4 separate regions of the Homo sapiens genome follow, and regions 2, 3 and 4 are each linked to region 1. Evidence: fine-mapped expression QTL. A gene starts in region 1. Each other region holds a variant in brackets. All regions are shown on one strand. Distances are from middle to middle.

Region 1 (5,000 bases):
TCTTTGAGAATCTAATGCCACTGCTGATCTGACAGGAGGTAGAGCTCATGGTGGTAAGGCTGCAGGCTCACTCACCTCCTGCTGTGTGGCTAGTTCCTAACAGGTCACAGACCCAGGGAGTTTGGGACCCCCGCTCTAGGGCACAAAATTTAAGGAGGCACTCATTCTCAGGTTTATGTAAGTGTTGACCCTGAATTTGAGAGTGAGTGCCTCCTTAAATTTGCACTTCAGGAGCCTCTTCATCTTGTCCTAGCCCCAGACTTGTTTCTTCTATTTCAGGGAACTAGAACTAGGAACAGGAAGCAAACTGGCTACTGAGTAGAAGTGGACTGAGATCATTTCCCATTTTGAACTTACTTATTCCATTTTCAACCTGCGAGAAAGCTTAAGCACCAATTTTAGAACAAGAAAAGGCTACTGCCTAGAGAATTGTCTATTCCTTTTATTTCTCTGAAAACAACGTTCTCCACACTGAGCTGTAATTGTAGGTTACTTAACTGCCTCTGCCTCCCCTGTAACTGACTGTGAGCTCTGGGAAAACACAAAGCTCCTACCCTGTGTCCTCTTTTGACCCCACTGTAGTAGCCCCAGGGCCTGTTGGAGAACCTTGCAAGTGTTTGTATTTGCTGACTCTAATTACTCTGAATATTTTTCTGTAACCCATCCCAATAAAGATCTCACTATCACGACTCTCCCAAAACTGCTTTTGTCAAGATTAATCATCTTTATATTGCTAAATCCAATAATCAGTTGTCAGCCTTTATCTTCCTTGACCCATTAACATTTGATACAGTTGATCATGACCTATCAACATTTGATGCAGTTGATCATGCCCTTCTTCCTGAAACATTTTCTTCACTTGGCTTCAAGGACACTGCGCTTTCCTGACCCCTCCACTTCACCGGCTATTTGGTTACAGCCTCCTTTGCTAGTTTCTCCTCATTTCCTCCACCTCCAAATGGAATGGAGTGCCTCAGGGCTTAGTCCTCTGTGTACGCTCATTTCCTAGGTGGTCTCACCTAGCCTTTAACTACTAGCTGTATGCCGAAGACTCCCTACTTAAATCTCCAACCCGTATCTCTGTCCTAGACTCCACACTCCAAATGCCTCTACAACATCTCCTGGGTGTCTCATGAGGATCTCAAGTTTAGTAAGCCCAAAAGCAGACTCTTGATCTTTCCCCCACCCTAAGTCAGCTTGTCCTACAGGCTTCCCCATCTTGGTAAAATGAAAACTTCACCCTTCCAATTGTTCAGGCCAAAACCTGTGGAGTCATCTTTGGCTCCTTTCTTTCTCTCTTATTCCAAGTCTGATCTGTTAGCAATCCACCTTCAAAATCTATCCAAACTTTGACCACTTCTCAACACCTCTACTGTTACTCTACAGTTCCAAGTCATCATCTCTTGTTTAAATTATTGCAATAGTTTCCTAACCTGTCTCCCTGTGACCATCCATGACGCCCTACGATCTATTCTTAATACAGCAACTAAAGTGATTCTTTAAAAATGTGTCAGATCATGTCACTCATCTGCTCAAAAAGTTCCCCATGACACTCTAGCCAAAGTCCCTGCATTAGTCTTACTAGGCCCAATAACTTCTGTACCTGCCCCTCCCTTCCAAACTAAACTCCTAACTTCTTCCCCTTGCTTACTCATTTCCAGCCACGCTGATCTGAATGCTGTCCCTTGAACACACCAGACATACTTCCACATCAGGGCTTTCCCATTTACTGTTCCTTCTACCAGACAGCCAAATGGCAACTGTCCTCATCTACCTCAGTTTTGTACTCAGATGTCACTTTTTCAATGAATTCTTTCCCAACTTTGCTTTATTAAAAGTGCAAGCCCCCACCTCCAGTTTTTATCCTACACCCTACTATATTTTTCTCTGTTGCACATATCACCATTTGATATGTTATGTTTTACTTGTTAATTTCTTTATAATCTGCTTCTCCTACTGGAGAGTAGGTTCCAAAAGAACAAAGAATTTAGTCTGTTTAGTTCCCTACTGTATCCTCAGCACCTAGTAGGTGCTCAATAACTGTGTTAAATGAATATAGGTTGAGCATCCTAATCTGAAAATGGGAAACCCAAAATCTGAAAGTTTTTCAGCGCAGACATGATGCCACAAGTGGAAAATTCCACACCTGACCTCATGTGATGGGTTGCACAAAATTATTTAAAATATTGCATAAAATTACCTTCCAGCTATGTGTATAAGGTGTATATGAAAAATAAATAAATTTCCTGTTTACACTTGGGTCCCACCCCCCAGATCTCTTGTATATATGCAAATATTAAAAAAAAAAAAATCCGAAATGCTTCCCAGTCCCAAGCATTTCAGATAAGGGTTACTCAATTTGTAAATGAACTGTAGGTGCCTAACAAATCTCTGTTCAATGTGTGAAGGAATAAATAAAAGGGTAGATGCGCCAGTCATATAGCCAGCCGCAGCTCACCTAGCCTGACCAAGTGAGAGATGCTGCATCCTGACGCCACTACTGTAAGGATTAATCAAGGACAGCATGTAAAACTTCAACGCCGTGCGCGGCTCTCTCTTTCCTTCCCCTTCTCTCTTTCCAGTGAAGGGGACGGCTCCTTCCCCTTCTCTCTTTCCAATGCAGATCCTTCAAATCCTAAAATGTCGAGGCAGCCGCGTGCTGTGGGACCACGTCCTCGCCCTCTACACCCGCATTTTGCAGATGCGAACCCAGGCTAGGAAGAGAGAGAATCGCCAAACCCTTTTAAATTTCTCACTCACTCACCCATCCCATGCCAGATCACCAACGGCAGCGGCGCCGGCGGGTCCAGATGCTGCAGCGCCCGAGAAGCGCAGGTCCATGGCAGGAGAGCCACAGCCAAGAGCCACAGGCAGCCGGGCGACGCCATCTTCGCTGTGTCACATGACCGCGGGCGCGAGACTCCGGGAACCGCGCTCCGCCCGCCTGGGCGTGGCGCCGCCGGTTGCAGATCGCAACCTGCGCATCCCGAACGGATGCCCAGCCTGATGGGCGTCGGCCCTACCCTGGAGCTTTCAGCGCGACAGGTCCCCCGCCAGACCCCGCTGGCCGAGTGGGGCTCTGCGCTCTCGTAGACCGCCCTCTGCGGTGAATCAAAATAATTGCTAACATATATTCAGTGCTGATCAGATGCTATCAGGCACTATTCTTACAACCTTTAACTAATTCACTCTTCATAACAATGCTGTATGCACTTCTCCCCCTGACAGGTGAGGACACTGAGGCACTGCGAATTGGCACTGAGTAAGGTGCCCAAGGTCACAGAGATAGCAAATTGGTGGTTCCAAAGTCGTTGCTCTTCACCACTGCCCTGTACTGCCTTTGCAAGAAACATGCACAGAGGAAGGAAGAAAGAAGGAGGGACGGTTTCCAGCCAGGACCAATCATGGCAGGGTGTGGGGTTTGTTCTGGATATTGAAGGAGAGGTAGGATTTCAACAAGCAAAGATGAAATTCAGAAGGACTGAGATGAGCTAAGGTAGAGAGGAGAAAGACAACTGTGTTTTCTAGAAATGTCGGGACTTCAAGACGGACGAAAGCATATGTTGGATGCATAAGAGTGAGGGGGAAACCCATGGCCACTAACTGGCCTAATCTCAGCTGGATTATTTCAAGGGTCTCTCATCAACCATTTCCTTTTCCATTCTCTCCTCTTTAATTCATTTTATGCTCTATTGCCACATTCATCCCTCAATCCACCTTCATAATATCAGTTCCCTGCTCAAGTTTTTTTTCAACAAAACATCAAAAAATAGTTTAAATAATTTATAAAGAAATTAGAGTGTATCCACTATACAATGGAATAATATGAGGCCAGTTTTATAAAAAATGAGTATAGGGCCGGGCGCGGTGGCTCACTCCTGTAATCCCAGCACTTTGGGAGGCTGAGGTGGGCAGATCATCTAAGGTAGCGAGTTCGAGACCAGCCTGACCAACATGGAGAAATCCCGTCTCTACTAAAATTACAAAATTAGCCGGGTGTGGTGGCGCATACTTGTAATCCCAGCTACTCAGGAGGCTGAGGCAGGAGAATCTCTTGAACCCGGGAGGCAGAGGTTGCGGTAAGCTGAGATCATACCATTGTACTCCAGCCTGGGCAACAAGAGCAAAACTCTGTCTCAAAAAATAAGAATAAAAAATAAATAAAAAGAGAGTACAGCCCAGGCAGCATAGCAAGACCCCATCTCTACAAAAAAAAAATTTTTTTTTAATTAGCCAGGGGTGGTGGTATGTGCCTGTAATCCTAGCTACTGGGGAGGCTAAGGTGGGAGGATCACTTGAGCCCAGGAGTTCAAGGCTGCATTGAGCTATGATCTCGCCATTGCACTGAGCTATGATCTCGCTGTTGCCCTGGGCAACAGTGAGACCCTGTCTCTCTCAAAAAAGAAAAATGAGGTAAATTTACATAAAGTGACATGAAAAATGCCCTTAATATGTTGTAAAAGAAAAGTCGATTACAAACCCACGGTCTGTAATCTCTTCTATTCCATGCCATTGGGACTAGAGGTAAGTTGTTAGTTGAAAAGTCGATTAAAATGCAGAATCCACTGGGCGCACTTTGGGAGGCTGAGGCAGGTGGATCACCTGAGGTTGGGAGTTTGAGACCAGCCTGGCCAACATGATGAAACCCCATCTCTACTAAAAATACAAAAAATTAGCCGGGCATGGTGGTGGGTGCCTGTAATCCCAGCTACTCAGGAGGCTGAGACAGGAGAATCACTTGAACCCAGGAGGCAGAGGGTGCAGTGAGCCAAGATTGAGCTACTGCACTCCAGCCTGGGCAACAAGAGTGAAACTCTGTCTCAAAGAAAAAAAAATGCAGAATCATAAAGCATTATACAGTACAGTATACAGTTTTGTTTTAAGAAAAATAAGCTTATTGTATAAGCATTTTATTTTAACTTAAGACTTACAAATTGAAGTAGTTTCAGGATTTTTCTGTGAATATAGCCCGCTCAATGAAGTTTCCTGCCTTTAATGAA
Region 2 (5,205 bases), 82 kb before region 1:
GGACTACAGGCGCCCGCCACCACGCCCGACTCATTTTTTGCATTTTTAGTAGAGACGAGGTTTCACTGTGTTAGTCAGGATGGTCTCGATCTCCTGGCCTCGTCATCCACCCGCCTTGGCCTCCCAAAGTGCTGGGATTACAGGCCTGAGCCACCGCGCCTGGCCTACGATCATTTAAAAAAAAAAAAAAAAAGTCTTGTTAAGAATGTTCAGGTCCCGTGTAGTGGCTCACGCCTGTAATCCCAGCACTTTGACAGGCCGAGGAGGGCGGATCACCTGAGGTCAGGAGTTCAAGACAAGCCCGGCCAACATGGTGAAACCCCGTCTCTACTAAAAATTCAAAAATTAGCCAGGTATGGTGGTATGTGCCTGTAATCCCAGCTACTTGGGAGACTGAGGCAGGAGAATTGCTGGAACCTGGGAGAGGGAGGTTGCAGTGAGCCAAGATTGTGCCACTGCACTGCAGCCTGGGCAACAGCGAGATTCCATCTCAAAAAAAAAAAAAAAAAAAAAGAATGTTCATAGCAGGTTGGGTGCAGTGGCTCACCCCTGTAATTCTAGCACTTTAGGAGGCAGAGGTATGCAGATAACATAGGCCCAGGAGTTCAAACCAGCCTGGCCAACATGGCGAAACCCTGTCTCTACTAAAACTACAAAAATTAGCCAGGCGTGCTGGTGCAAGCCTTTAATCTCAGTTACTCAGGAGGCTGAGGCATGAGAATCACATGAGCCTGGGAGGTGGAGGTTACAGTGAGCCAAGATTGCACCACTGCACTCCAGCCTGGGCAGCAAAGCAAGACTCTGTCTCAAAGAAAATTAAAAATTACGTTAAAAAAAGTTCATAGCAGCATTATTCATAAAACAACCCAAATGTCTATCAACTGATAAATGGATAAACAAAATGTGGTATATTCACAAATAAAATATTATACAGCCAAAAAGAGAGTACTGATATATGCTGCACCATGGACGAACCTTGAAGACATTATGCTTAGTGAAAGAAGCCAAACATGAAAGGCCACCTTTTAATGATTCCACTTGTATGAAATGTACAGAGTAGGCTAACTCATAGAGACAGAAAGTAGATCAGTGCTTGTGGGGTGAGAGGAACAGGGAATGACTGCTAATGGGTATGGAGCTTCTTTTTGGGGTAATGAAAAATTTCTGGAATTTGATAGTGGTGATATTTGCACAACCTTGTAAATATACTAAAAACCACTGAATTGTACGCTGAAAAGGGTGAATTTTATAGTATGTGAGTTATATTTCAATTAAAAAACCCAGAAATGATAGCAAACTGATTTCTATATTTATAGACCTTGGGCAACAAGCGTTTTGGTAACACCACCCAGCTTTGCATTTTCCACCAAAATGTTAAGCAAAAGAATTACTCAGAGGACAAGGAGAAAAAGCTGGCTATAAATTTTGAAACATAATTTTTAAAAATCTATATTGCATACAATGCTGATTATAAATATGCAATGTAAAGCTCTGCAAAATGCAAACAGTATCTAAATGTAAAATGTAGAAAGTTGCAGTTTCCTATAACCCTATTGTAGGGATTAATGTAATGCTAGCAGTTTAACAGATCAATCCTAACATCTCAAATGCCTAATAAGATAAGATTTTATCTTTTACCAGTGAAATCTAAAACAGAATTTTGCCCCTATCAACATGAAAGAATCAAAAGGATCAGCACCCATTTTTAAAGAGTTTATTCAGGCTGGGCACAGTGGCTCACACCAGTAATTCCAGCACTTTGGCAGACCAAGAAGGAGAATTGCTTAAAGCCAGGAGTTCAAGACTAGACTGGGCATCAAAGTGAGACTCTGTTTCTATTAAAAAAATTTTTTTAAGGCGTTTATTCCGTGAAAATGGGGTCAGTGAAATGGGGTCCGTGCTCTGATGTCAAAAGTTAAGGTCTTGTTTATAAAGGAAGAAAACAAAGAAATTTAACAGGATTATTTCTTATACAAAGCTGGTTTATGAATTAAAACAATTCAATTAGTTAATTTGTTTTCTTTTCCTTGTGGCTTGGTTTCATTTATTTTCTAATTTAAAAGAGTATATAATGTAACAGTCATGAAGGCTTTGTGTGAGAGAGGTAGGAAGGAAGTTAATCTGCAATGAAGATCAGCAGTGAAGTGGGACTAAAGGGAAGTACCCTTTAGTCATTTACAACATTTTACAAAATTATGTAGATAAGGAAGGAGGCTAATCTATAATCAGAGAAAAAATGTTTACAGTTTCCTAGGTTACAGCTGCCTGTCACATGACTCAAGTCTCATAAACACATTTCTTTAAAGCTCAAAATAATTTAATGTTCCAACAGCTTAGATTTTTTTCTTTTTTTTTTTTTTTTTGAGGCAGAGTCTTGCTCTCTTGCCCAGGCTAGCATGCAGTGGTGCAGTCTTGGCTCACTGCAACTTCCGCCTCCTGGGCTTAAGTGTTTCTCGTGCCCTAGCCTCCCAAGTAGCTGGGGCCACAGGCGTATGCCACCATGCCCGGCTAATTTTTTGTATTTTTAGTAGCGACGGGGTTTCACCCTGTTGGCCAGGCTGGTCTCGAACTCCTGACCTCAAATGATCCACCTGCCTTGGTTTCCCAAAGTGCTGGGGTTACAGGCGTGAGCCACTGCACCTGGCCCAATAGCTTAGATTTTGAATTACTTATTTTCACACCACTGATCAG[T/C]AAATTGCTCTTCTCCAAGCAATGATTCAGAGACCCAAGGTCATTCTATCTTCTGTCTTCATCTTGAACACACGACATTCAGAGTTGCCACAGAAGGAGAAAGAGCATGGAGAACTGTCCACGATTCCATTGGCCAGATCTCAGGCACACGGCCATAGTTATCTGCAAGAGAGACTGAGAAATGTAAGCTGATGAGTGGCCAGGCGGAAGAGGAAACAGATTTGTTGAACTTTTGGCCAGTCTCTGCCACACATTTCTCACCAACAACTCTGTCAATAGTTTATAGCAAAGTCCTCCACCTTTTTTTGGTATGCATATACTAATATATAATAACATTTTTAGGGAATCATGCTATGTATATTGGATACTATGGACTGGGTAGGCTGATTCAGATATGACCTGCGCTTATTTAGTCATCATCCATATACATTCAGAATTTAGAGTATACTGATTCAAACCTTGGTAACCTCAAGCGGGCATTACACATTGTTATTCAGATGTTTCTCATACTGACTCAGATGCTACTCAGCACGCTCTTACATGTAAGCCTGTGGGGATGGCCAGTCCCAAGTCCGAAGAATTGAGGAGGGTTTCATAGCTCTGCTGAGGTTTATCTCCCTATGAAGTTGCTTTCTTTACTCCTTCAAAAAAAATTCGTATTATCTGGCTTTTTATATTATATGTTGTTTTAATTTTAACCTCAGATGTGGTTAATTGTTCTCTGCATTTCATGGCACATTACTGTCATTGGTCCATGCAATTCTTCTTCCACTTCTCCCCCTGTCTCATATATGTGTATATATGAGAATTGGGCTATGGAATGAAGGGAATATATATATATACACACACACACATGCACATACAGAAAATAACTGAAACCAAGCCATGAGGAAAAGAAAACAAATTAATTGTTTTAATTCACAAACCAGCTTTGTATGAAAAATAAACCTGTTAAATTTCTTATGTGTATGTGTGTATATATGTACACACACACACGCGTGCACACGTGCACGCACAAACACACACACATATTCCCTTTCATTCCATAGCCCACTTCCTTTCTCTCCCGATAGACAACCACTATAATGTGTTTAATATGTATCTTGGTATTTGTGTCTTGCAAAACATATTTTACGTGCAAATATTTTAAATTTAATATTTAATAAATATTTAAATTTAATAAATAAAGTGACTTGTGTTTATTATGTATTCTGTTATCACTTTTTAAAATCAGCACTGTTTTTAAGTTCAAGATCTATCCATGTTGTTAAGTGTACATCTAATTCATTGGTTCCAATTGCTGTATAGTACTTCATGGTGTACCTTCAACACATTTTATAGATTTATTCTCTAAGTGATGAAAATCCAAATTGTTTCCACAATTATTGCTCCTCCAAAACACAAATGATGCTTCAATGAAGATTCTAGTTCTTTTCTTTCTTTCTTTCTTTCTTTTTTTTTTAGATGGAATTTTGCTCTTTTCTGCCCAGGCTGGAGTGCAATGGCATGATCTTGGCTCACTGCAACCTCTGCCTCCTGGGTTCAAGTGATTCTCCTGTCTTAGCCTCCCGAATAGCTGGGATTACATGTGCATGCCACCAAGCCTGGCTAATTTTGTACTTTTAGTAGAGATGGGGTTTCACCATGTTGGCCAGGCTCGTCTCAAACTCCTGACCTCAGGTCATCCATCTGCCTCAGCCTCCCAAAGTGCTGGGATTACAGGATTCTAGTTCATGAACTTTTATGGACTTGGGTAGGAATTTCATTGAGATACTGACTCGGAAGCCGATTTGCTTGATCATTAAGTATACAGACACACTATTTGACTATGTACCACCATGCTGCCCTCTAAAGTGGTTGCACCAGTCTTCATGTCCACCATGGAGTTCCTCTTTCCCCAACAAATATCACTGTCATATCTCTAATTTTTGCTATCAGATTAGATTATTAATTTACATTTTTCTGATTGTAATTGCATTTAAGCATCTCATCACTTGCTTACTATCCTTCTGCATTTCCTCTCCTGTGTATTGCCTACTCATAAATCTTTCCATTTTTTTTCTTTTTTGTAATTGGGGTTGCTCTATTTTTCTGCTCTATTATTGGGGTTGATATGCAGGACTTCCTTTTCTTTCCTAGGTCAGGGACCAGGAAGCTATGGCCCCCTAGATCAAATCTGGCCTGCCTCCAGTTTCTATAAATCAAGTTGTATTACAGCACAATCACACCCAGCCGGGCTCAGTGGTTCATGCCTGTAATCCCAGCACTTTGGGAGGCTGAGGCAGGAGACTCACTTGAACCCAGGAGGTGGAGGTTGCAGTAAGCTGAGATCACACCACTGCACTCTAGCCTGGGTGACAGAGTGAGACTCTGTCTCAAAAAAAAAAAAACAAAAAGAAAACACAAAAATTAGCTGAGCATGGTGGTGTGCACCTGTAATCCCAGCTACTGGGGAGGCTGAGGCAAGAGAATCACTTGAACCTGGGATGAAGAGGTTGCAGTGAGCCGAGATCG
Region 3 (5,205 bases), 39 kb before region 1:
GGCTGGAGTGCAGTGGTACTCATGGCTTACTGAAGCCTCTACCTTCTGGGCCTAAGCCATCCTCCCACCTCAGTCTCCCAGGTAGCTGGGACCACAGCTGTACACCACCATGCTTGGAAAAATTTTAAATTATTTTTGTAGAGACAAGGTCTCCCTATGTTGCCCCGGCTAGTCTTGAACTCCTGACCTCAAGCAACCCTCCTGTCTTGGCCTCCCAAAGTGCTGGGATTAGAGGAGTGAGCCACTGTGCCCAGCCAGTATCCTAACTCTTATCAGTCAGGATGGAGGCAAGAGGCATCTATTCATGAGATACACTAAATAGAGCCTATGGATTTTGATGACTGATAAGATGTTGTGGGGGAGTTTATGGAATCCTTACTATTTTCCAGGACTGTGCCAAGCACTTCTACATGGATTCCTTCATTTATTCTCACTGAAGCCCTTTGGATTTTTGTGCTATTATTGTCTTCATTATAAAGATAAGGAAATTGAGTCTCAGAAAGTTTGATAACTGCTTATAGTCACAAAGCCACTGCATATTGTTATTCAAACCTCCAATCTCTCTGATTTCTCTAAAGAACACTCTTATCCACTATATAATACTGCCCAACAGTTTCCAGTTACTGACTTGATCAATCAGGTGATTGATAGCAGTGCTGGAGCAATGTTAGGGAATATGATTTCTGCTTTTGGACATTTCAGGTTGCCTTTGGGACATCCAGGTAGCGATGTCTAGGTGAAAGCTGGATTTTTTTTTTTTTGGAGACAGGGTCTCACTCTGTCACCCAGGCTGGAGTGCATGGTACAATCACTACTCATTGCATCCTCGACCTCCTGGGCTCAGGTAATCCTCACACCTCAGCCTCCTGGGTAGCTGGGACTACAGGTGTGTACCATCATGCCCGGCTAATTTTTTTATTTTCTGTAGAGATGGAATTTTGCCATGTTGTCCAGGCTGGTCGTGGACTCCTGAGCTCAAACACTTCCTCCCATCTTGGCATTCCAGAGTGCTGGGATTGTAGTTGTGAGCCACAGTACTTGGCCTGAATCTAAAATTTAATCCCAGATGAATGGCCTGAGCTAGATGGATATGCTGCTCTGGTAGTCTTTAGTCTATAGGTGGTTATGGTGGTACCACCTCGCAAATAGGCTGGGTGTTACTACAACAAGGGTAGTCAGAGGCTTTAGGAGTGTACATGACCACCGGAAGAATGTACGTGTGTATAGAGAATAAGAAAAGGTGTGTCTTTCACACAACTGAATCTCATTCTCTACACACACATACAATGTCATACTTAAATTCTGGACATTATTTTCCATAACATCTCAAATCTCATCTTACTCCCACCAAGAGCAAAAAAAACAGTTTCTGTTCTTTTGTATTTGGTTAATGGTAGAATGAGATTAGCTATAAATGGTAGCTGTATTGTCCTTTTTCATTCTGCTTAAGTCAGACAGCGGAACTTTAGCTTGTTTAGCAGTGAAAGCCTATAAATACAAATGAAATATGGAAAAAGGGAGCCAAAGTCCCATGAAGCTCTATTATTAAGCATTTAAGATTGGTAAATGTTCACAAACTCTGGCAGCCTCTAGCAATACATGTACTGTGTCTCCATGTTAACAGTGGTCTCAACCTGAAACATCCATGTATGAAGGAACATGTTTTAATAACAGAACTGAGTGGTATCTGTTCATGGAAGGTAGCTTAGGAGTTTATTGCGTTCCTTGCCTTTTCCCCTGGACTTACAGTGTGGTGGATTGTATATATATGTGAGTCTGTCTCTTGATCAGTATGCATAATGGAACAGGGCAGGAATTCAGATATCAGTTGATAGTGTCATAACATTAGGGAAAGTATGTTGACTGCTTATGGTCTGCTCTATTTGAGAGTAGGACATAGACCTGGAGGCTTCTGCTGCTGCTGCAGGCCAAGGAATGGAAAGGTTTGTTTGGTTCTCATTCTCATTTTTTTTCTTTGCTTCTCTTTTAAACAACACTCTCTGACAAGTGATTGGGCCCACAGAGACCAGAGCCTGTACACAGAGAATGGACAGAGACTATATTGTCTTCCTTACTTTATCTTGTGAGCTGCTTATCTCTTCCACAGGGAGGACAATGTGTTAAATTGAGATAATTCTGGCATGCTGTCATCTTTGGGGGAATCATAATTGCTGTTGTCATTTTAGGCAGCTTCAAGGGAGTTGAGTTCATTCAGCTTCAGTTACCTGAACTGAATTCAGTTGCCTGAATTGACGCTTTTGTGAAATGGAATCTTTCCAAGTCAAAGCTTGGATTGAAATTTCACTGACTGGTTTTTATGAGATCACTTAGGGTCTCAAATACTTTATGTAGAGGTGCATTGATCATATTTTACACTTATGTGTGACTTATGGGCAACTTTTAGCACCCTTATCCCTCTGGAGTTTTGGAATGCTATTTGTGAGGTTTATAACTTCATAAATATTTATTGAACATCTACTACCTGCCAGGTAGTAGTCTAGATGGTAGAGTATACAGTAAGGAACAAGCTATATAAGGTCCTTTCTCTGTTGGAGCTTACTTTCTTTGGGATATTAGACATTGAATTAGGCTATTTCAGATAAGATAGTACTTGTGAAAGATCTATAACAAATTCTTTTGGATGTGTCTAGTGTCCTTCCCTACTGCATGTCCAGATCTTTCTCATCTTCATTTGAAGGCTGGCTCAAATGGCAGCTTCTCCATCATATCCTTATCTGATCCTTCC[A/T]GCTGATATATTACTCCCCTCTTTGAAATCTCATGCCTCTCTATCAGCAACTTTCTTATGTCACCTTAACATTTTTTTCTATTTGTTTCATAGTTGTTAGTGCATATGTTAAGTCTCCCCATTAGACTATAAATTACTGAGGGCAGGCCGGGCACAGTGGCTCACGCCTGTAATCCTAGCACTTTGGGAGGCCAAGGCGGGTGGATTACTTGAGGTCAAGAGTTCAAGACCATCCTAGCCAACACAGTGAAACCCTGTCGCTACTAAAACTACAAAAAATTAGCTGGGCATGGTGGCGCACACCTATAACCCTAGCTACTTGGGAGGCAGGAGAATCCCTTGAACCCAACAGGGTGGAGCTTGCAGTGAGCTGAGATCCTGCCACTGCACTCCAGCCTGGGTGACATTGTAAGACTTTGTCTGAAAAAAAAAAAATTATTGAGGGAAGAGTAAACATCCTATTCATCTTGGTTTGGGATATTTCACATGCAGGCAGCAGGATGTTGTAGGAAAAAAACACACTGAACTTAGAACCAGAAGGATCAGATAAGGATATGATGGAGTACTGGCTTCTCTATTCACTGGCCGTGTGACTAGACAAGTCATTTAGCTTCACTGAAACTAAGTTTTCTATCTCTAAGCGTGTAGTAATCATCCTTCTATTCCTGAATAGTTGTCGGGAGGCTCAAACTGAGATAATGTATGTGACTATCCTTTGCAAATTCTAACTTTCTACACACAGTATCATAGTAAATATTGAGTATTTGAATGAGTAAGCATTTACTTTAGTGAACACCTTTTCCTGAGCAGTTCTCTTGCTTAATGAGGTCTTTTGATTTTGTAAATATGCTACTTTTTTATCTGATATTTTTGTATTGTTCCATTTTGCAGATGATATCTAATTTTATTAAATTATTCTGTTCCTGAGAATTGGCATCCTCTTCATCCACCTGGGGATGACCAGGAATTTTCTGTTTTTTTCTCTGTAGGTGCTATTTAATATTTAAATAACAAATGACATTTGATCTGTTTCAGCAGGTGGTCCATTATGGCTGACATGCAAAATCTGGTAGAAAGATTGGAGAGGGCAGTGGGCCGCCTGGAGGCAGTATCTCATACCTCTGACATGCACCGTGGGTATGCAGACAGTCCTTCAAAAGGTAAGCAGTCCACAGCCCAGCAGAATGCTTTCTTTGAGCGTCTTGGCCTGAAAATTTTCTATTATTCTCTCCTTTGGCGCTAACTTCCCAAAACTTAATCTAGAAAGTTTACCTTTTGTAATTTGTATTGCTGTGAACAGATAAGAGAGGAAATGACTTGTACAGGGAGGCCTGTGGTTAAGTTATTTTAACACAAGAACTTCCTGCTTGTGCAATATTTCCTGCTCTTTCTTTAGCAGAATGACTCCAATGTAAGTCAAATGACAAGTGATAATAAAATTCCTCTCTCCAAACAATTGGCAAATTGGACATTTTGCACATGCACCAGTTGGAACATAGAATGTTAGCACTAAAAAAAACCTTGGAGGATCATTTTGTTTATTTTCATTTTATAGATAAAGAAAATTAAGCTCAGAGAGGAAAAGGAATTTAGTCAGGGTCACACAACCAGTTAGTGGTGATACTGGACCTGGAACCCAGGTTTCCTTACTCCTGTTCTGTATCCTGTTGACTGTATTACCTTGCCTCCCCACTTTCATGTAGAAGCACGTTTTAAAGAAGCCTCCTTCTGATGCATGGCTGATTCTTTGTGGTGTGTTTGTCTTTAGCAGGAGCAGCTCCATATGTGCAGGCATTTGACTCGCTGCTTGCTGGTCCTGTGGCAGAGTACTTGAAGATCAGTAAAGAGATTGGGGGAGACGTGCAGAAACATGTAAGGATGTTTTGCCTTTTTCCCCTTCTTTTAAGGACTAACAGCTTTCTTCAGTCAGCCAAGGTCCTCATCCTTGGTTTAAGAGCTCCTTGAGAAGTTCCTCTTGGTTTGGGGCATTACACATGTTCTTTCTCTTTTGCCTGTACTGAGGAGTTCAGTCTAGCCACAGAAACGATTCCTCATTTTTTTCTAGGCCCCTTGCTTTTATCACGTATTTATACAGAAAGCTTGCTTGGTACATAAAATATGGTTCTGTTCATCTTTGTAGTGAAGAATATGCACCAGTTTGATCCCAACATATTACATAATCAAACCTACAGTGGCTTATTTAAAGGAGTCATTATCATGACTTAGCATTTATAAAACTATGCTTGATAGTTATTAGTTATGCTAATGTGGGTTATTTTCACACTTAACCCACAGCAAGAATATGAAGTAGGCAATGACAGGTGCCTTTCCTCCCACCTTCCTTTATGCCTCCTACGTCATCACCACCACCCCCCACCCCCACCCCACACTCACATATACATTCTACCTCTATTTTTGGGACCCAAAAACCTTCCTGCTAGCTCACCGAATTATAAACA
Region 4 (5,205 bases), 71 kb before region 1:
ACAGAGAATCACTCCCAAGGAGCAGGATTGGGTCCCAGTTAAGGACATGGAAATGTGCATTCTGAAATCTGGGATTTCAGAATTACTATGGAACACTGACTGTTATGTGCCTCCTGTTCATCCCTTTTGAATGGGAGCATTTATTGCAGTTTTCCTATCCTCATATGACTATTGGATGTTGTGTTTGTGTTACAGATGACTTGACTGTATTTCACAGGTCTTCATATCAAGAGGAACCCACACTCAAGGAAGTACGCCTGAAGAGCTTCATCTGCAGCTAGACCTCATTTAGGTAATGAGACTGTGAACTTCAAGCTGATACCATGTGGGATGAGACTTTGGGGGTCCTGGGAGGAGAGTGAGTATATTTTGCACATGGAATGGACGTGAATGGTGTTGGCCAGAGGGCAGGCTGCGGTAGACAGTCTTTAAATATGTATATCATCAGTGTCTGCTGTACTTGTAGTATGTCCTCTTTTTTACTTCTTTTTTTTTTGTACTTTTCTTCATCATTTCACCAGCGGTTTGTCTATTTTATTACTTTTCTCAAAGAACCAACATTTGGTTATGTCAATCTCTTTTATCACATATATTTGTTTTCTGCTTAGTTTCTCCTGTTGTTTTTTCTCCTCTCATTTTTATTATCTCATTACTTCTACTTTCTTTCCTTTTTTTTTTTTTTTGTTTTATTTATTTATTTAGAGATGGGGTCTTGCTCTGTTGCCAGGCTAGAGTGCAGTGACGTGATGACGGCTCGCTTCAGACTTGATCTCCTGGGCTCAAGTGATCCTCTTGCTTCAGTCTCCTAAGTAGCAAAGACTGAGACACCATGCCTGGCTAATTTTTAAATTTTTTTCTAGAGATTGGGGGTCTCGCTATGCTGCCCAGGCTGGTCTCGAACTCCTGGCCTCAAGCAGTTCTCCTGCCTTGGCCTCCAAAGTGGTGAGATTACAGGTGTGAGCCACTATGCCTGGCCACTTCTGCTTTCTTTGTTGATTTTTGTCTAACATCTTGACTTTAAAGCTTAGCTCTTTAAATTCCAGCCTATCTTTTTTTCTAATATAAGCACTTAAGGCTATGCATTTCTCCTTAAGTACATCCTATAAATTTCAATATAGCACTCTTAAAATCATTCAGTTCTAAGTATTTTCTGATACTTTCTTGTATGGTGTCTTCTTTGATCAGTTTAGCAGTAACTATATTTAAAGTTTTTCCAACATACAGGGTATTTTAAGGTGTTGCTGTTACTGTTCTTACTGTCCTCCAGTTATAATGAGACACCCAATGCGGTAAGTATACTGATTCTTTGGTGTTTGAGACTCGTTTTGTAACCTGGAGCATGGTCAATATTTATAAAAGCTCCATGGAAATTCTTGACAAAAATATATGTACTCTAATATTGGCTAACATTTTCTAAGTATAACCTATTAAGTCAAACCTGTTTTGTTTGTTTGTTTTGTTTTGTTTTAAACTGCTTCCCTGTCTTGGACCTGTCTGTCAGAATTCTATACTATCTGTGACATCTTTGGCAACAGTAACCCAATTTTTCCTTTCTTTATTAATGTGACATGAGATATTTGAAAATTCTATGATACATGTAGTATGTTTCATATTAAACTGAATTTGGGGGAGTTTTACACTTAATAGTTTGTCAATATTTTAGGATATTGGTACTTGATATCCTCTTTATATGAACAAATTGACTCTAAATTTTAAGCTGGAAAGCCATTGCAAAATCATGTAGAAAATAGGCTGGGTGCAGTGGCTCATGCCTGTAATCCCAGCACTTTGGGAGGCCAAGGCAGGTGGAACGCCTGAGGTGAGGAGTTCAAGACCAGCCTGGCTAGCATGGTGAAACCCCCATCGCTACTAAAAATACAAAAATTAGCTGGGTGTGGTGGTGCATGCCTATAATCCCAGCTCAGTCACTGTAGTTAAACTCCATTGGTTTGGTCTGTTAGGCTGAGTGCAGGAGCCTAGTCCAAATCAATGGCCTCCTGTAAATTTTAATTAATTAATTTATTTATTGAGATGGAGTCTCACTCTGTTGCCCAGGCTGGAGTGCAGTGGTGCAGTCTCAGCTCACTGCAACCTCTGTCCCCCAGGTTCAAGCAATTCTCGTGTCTCAGCCTCCTGAGTAGCTGGGATTACAGGTGCCTGCCACCACGCCCGGCTAATTTTTTTATTTTCAGTAGAGACAGGGTTTCATCATATTGGCCAGGGTGGTCTTGAACTCCTGACCTCAGGTGATCCACCTGTCTCAGCCTCCCAAAGTGCTGGGATTACAGGCGTGAGCCACCATGCCACACCTCAATGTCCTTCCAGCCTCAGTCAGCCAGGTGGTTTCAAAGCCAATTCCACATTTTAGGCTTTCATTATGGTAGCACCCATACCAAACTTTTTCTTAGAAACAGCTAAAAGCTGCATAAATTTGAGTCCTCTCACAAGTTCAAGGCAGATAGTTACTCAAGAGATTGAGGCTGAGGACGGGAGGCGGCTTGAGCCCAGGAGTTCGAGGTTACAATGAGATATAATTGAGCCACTGCACTCCAGCCTGGGTGACAGAGTAAGGCTCTGCCTCTAAAAAAAGAAAAGAAAAAAGTTCAAGTGGAAAATGGCAGTGAAAAGATAAGAAGCAGCAGGAGTAGACAGGGAGAATCTTCAGGCCATGGTGCAGGACTGACACCCGTGAGAGGAGAGAAGGAAAGAAGGAGGATTGGGTAGGAAGAGGCTCCGAGTGTTAGTGCAGCTCTGAAAAAACTCTTGGCCAGGCTGATTGCCCAGTGAAGGAGTCCCACATAAGGCAGAAATGGCCCAGCTGTAGTATGCCCTGGAGCTCGGTCATTGGCTGGGATGAATCCAGGGAAAGCGTGCCTTGGCAAGAATGCTGTGGCAAATCCCAGAGGTACGGCAGTTACCTCTACACCTCACAGCAGATTCTCTTTGTGAAGGTGGATGTAAGACATTGTGCACACAGTCCACCCCTTGGTCACATAGCCCATCCCTTGCACTGCCAAGATCCACCTGCCCCACATCATTGGAGAGAAGTTCCTCTACAGCTCTCACAGGCCTCTCTTCCTGAGGAGAAACCTGAATGAGTGAGGTTAGGGGGATGAACCATAGCCCCTATTGTTGCAGATGGTTGAGTTGTCTTTTTT[T/TA]AAAAAAAAAAAAAATCAATTTATAAGACTGGGTGCAGTGGCTCACACCTGTAATCCTACCACTTTGAGAGGCTGAGGAGGGAGGATTGCTTGAGCCCAAGACCACCCGGGGCAACATAGTAAGACCTCATCTCTACAGATAATTTAAAAAATTAGCTGGGTAGGTGAGCCACTGTGCCTGACCATACATTTTATTTAACATATGAAATGCCCAGAATAGGCAAATCTATAGAGACAAGTAGATTAGTGATTGCCTATGGTTGGGCAGGGAGAGTTGTGGGGTGCTGTGTTCTGAATGTGTCCCCAAGATTCATATGTTGATACTGAATCACCAATGTAATAGTATTAAGAGGTGGGGCCTTTAGGAGATGACTAATAAGGGCCGAGCCCTCATGGATGGCATTAAGGCCCTTATAAAAGGGCTTGAGTTGGTGGGTTCCATCTCTTCTGCCATGTGAGAAGGTCCTCACCTGATGCCAAACACCAGTGCTTTGATCTTGGACTTCCAAGCCTCTAGAACTGTGAGAAATGTCTACTATTTATAAATTATTCAGTCTCATGTATTTTGTTGTAGCAGCACAAACAGACTAAGACAGAGGTGGCAGGGGTGAGGGGGGACAGAGTATGACCATTAATGGGTACCAGGTCCCTTTTTGGGGTGATAAAAATGTTCTAAGATTGATCATGGTAAAAGTTGTACAACTCTGTGAATATACTAAAAACATCGAATTGTATGTTTTAAATGGGAGACTTGTATGGTATGTGGATTATATCTCAATAAAGCTGATATATATGTGTGTGTATATATATATGTGTATATATATGTGTATATATATGTGTGTATATATATGTGTGTGTATATATATATATATATATACACACACACACACACACACATATCTATATCTAGGACCAGGACTTACTTGGCTTGGCTTGAAAATAAAACTGTTTTCACTGTCAGCCTCTCCAGATGGTAAATGATTCTAAAGTTAAGAAATGGCTCTGGGCAGAAGTAAAATCCAAGACACTGTCAGGAAAATATTATCTAAAAAAGAAGTTAAAGGTTAAGACCTTTATAGAATGCTTTATAGGATGCTTTATAGAATCCATCTGATAGAAAAAAAAGTCTCTCCAAAGATCTTAAGGACATTTTGGAGCAGTCTCTCAAGGGAAGGAAGTGCTTATCTCAAAGAGATTTATGAGAGTAGCTTTTGTTGGAGTGGATAATAAATTCATGCATAAGGAACCCACAAAGCTTCTAAGAGAATTGCTCTGGCAGAAGCATCTATCAGCTAGGACTAATGGGGACATAGACAGTACAAAATGGAAAGATGCCTTTTATAGGGAGGAATCAGGCTGAGAAGGCTACTCAGATACAAACTCAATTTTCTTATAGAAAAGGAAGGATGATTCAGAGTGTAACCAAGAGCCCAGATATTGGAGCTGAAACCACAATGAACAACTCTCCGGCAATTGGACTAAGCTCTAATCAACCTACATCAGTTGGATTTCAGAGTTGTCTCTGCTGTATGCCTCCCATTTTCCCTTGTTTTGAAGGGGAGCAACTCTAGAGCAACTCTAGCCATGGGAGCAACTGTAGAGCAACTCTAGCCTTTCCCACCATTGTATGTAGGATGTGTATAGGAGGCAAATAAGTTGCCTCGTTAATTCATATATTTGATATGTAGGAAACAAATGGCAGAGATAGATCAATTAGATAAATTGAGAGGCTCTTAAGATAGTCCAGGCAAGAGATGATGGTAGCTTGGAGTAGGTAGCAGTGAAGAAAATGAGTAAGTAGAGAGATTCAGAATATATTTTGAAGTTAGAGCCAATGGTCTTTGCTCATATATTGGAAACGGGACATAAGAGGAATAGAAGAGTCGAATCAAATTCAACTCTTCAATATTTAGCTTGAAGAGCTGGGTTAATAAGTTTCCCTTCAACTGCTTTTGTTTGTCCACTCTCAGAGGAAAATTTTTAAGCGTAACCTACACTGCTCTCCCCCTTTTCTCACCTCCCACTTCCCATTACACTTTATCTAGTC

The links. PIP is the estimated chance that this variant, and not a neighbour inherited with it, causes the effect.
Region 2: its variant is fine-mapped to the expression of PPT1 in whole blood (INTERVAL, PIP above 0.99).
Region 3: its variant is fine-mapped to the expression of PPT1 in whole blood (INTERVAL, PIP 0.97).
Region 4: its variant is fine-mapped to the expression of PPT1 in whole blood (INTERVAL, PIP above 0.99).

The regions. Positions count from the first base shown.
Region 1 is chr1:40,094,351-40,099,350 of GRCh38, forward strand. PPT1 (palmitoyl-protein thioesterase 1) reads right to left here and starts at 2,902. Exons shown (of 9, transcript NM_000310.4): 1 at 2,765-2,902. The coding sequence starts at 2,888. RefSeq lists an enhancer at 2,637-2,766.
Region 2 is chr1:40,012,205-40,017,409 of GRCh38, forward strand. It overlaps LOC105378669 (a long non-coding RNA gene), which reads right to left. Exons shown (of 3, transcript XR_001738013.3): 3 at 1,701-2,865. Among named protein-coding and RNA genes, the nearest start is that of CAP1, 26 kb to the right of the region's middle. RefSeq lists a silencer at 3,221-3,270. The variant T/C (reference allele first, on the strand shown) is at 2,692.
Region 3 is chr1:40,055,553-40,060,757 of GRCh38, forward strand. It overlaps CAP1 (cyclase associated actin cytoskeleton regulatory protein 1), which reads left to right. Exons shown (of 13, transcript NM_006367.4): 2 at 3,785-3,906; 3 at 4,515-4,618. The coding sequence starts at 3,795. Among named protein-coding and RNA genes, the nearest start is that of CAP1, 17 kb to the left of the region's middle. RefSeq lists enhancers at 3,356-4,117, 3,723-3,772. The variant A/T (reference allele first, on the strand shown) is at 2,747.
Region 4 is chr1:40,023,485-40,028,689 of GRCh38, forward strand. The region is part of intron 2 of LOC105378669 (a long non-coding RNA gene); the gene reads right to left. Among named protein-coding and RNA genes, the nearest start is that of CAP1, 15 kb to the right of the region's middle. The variant T/TA (reference allele first, on the strand shown) is at 3,159.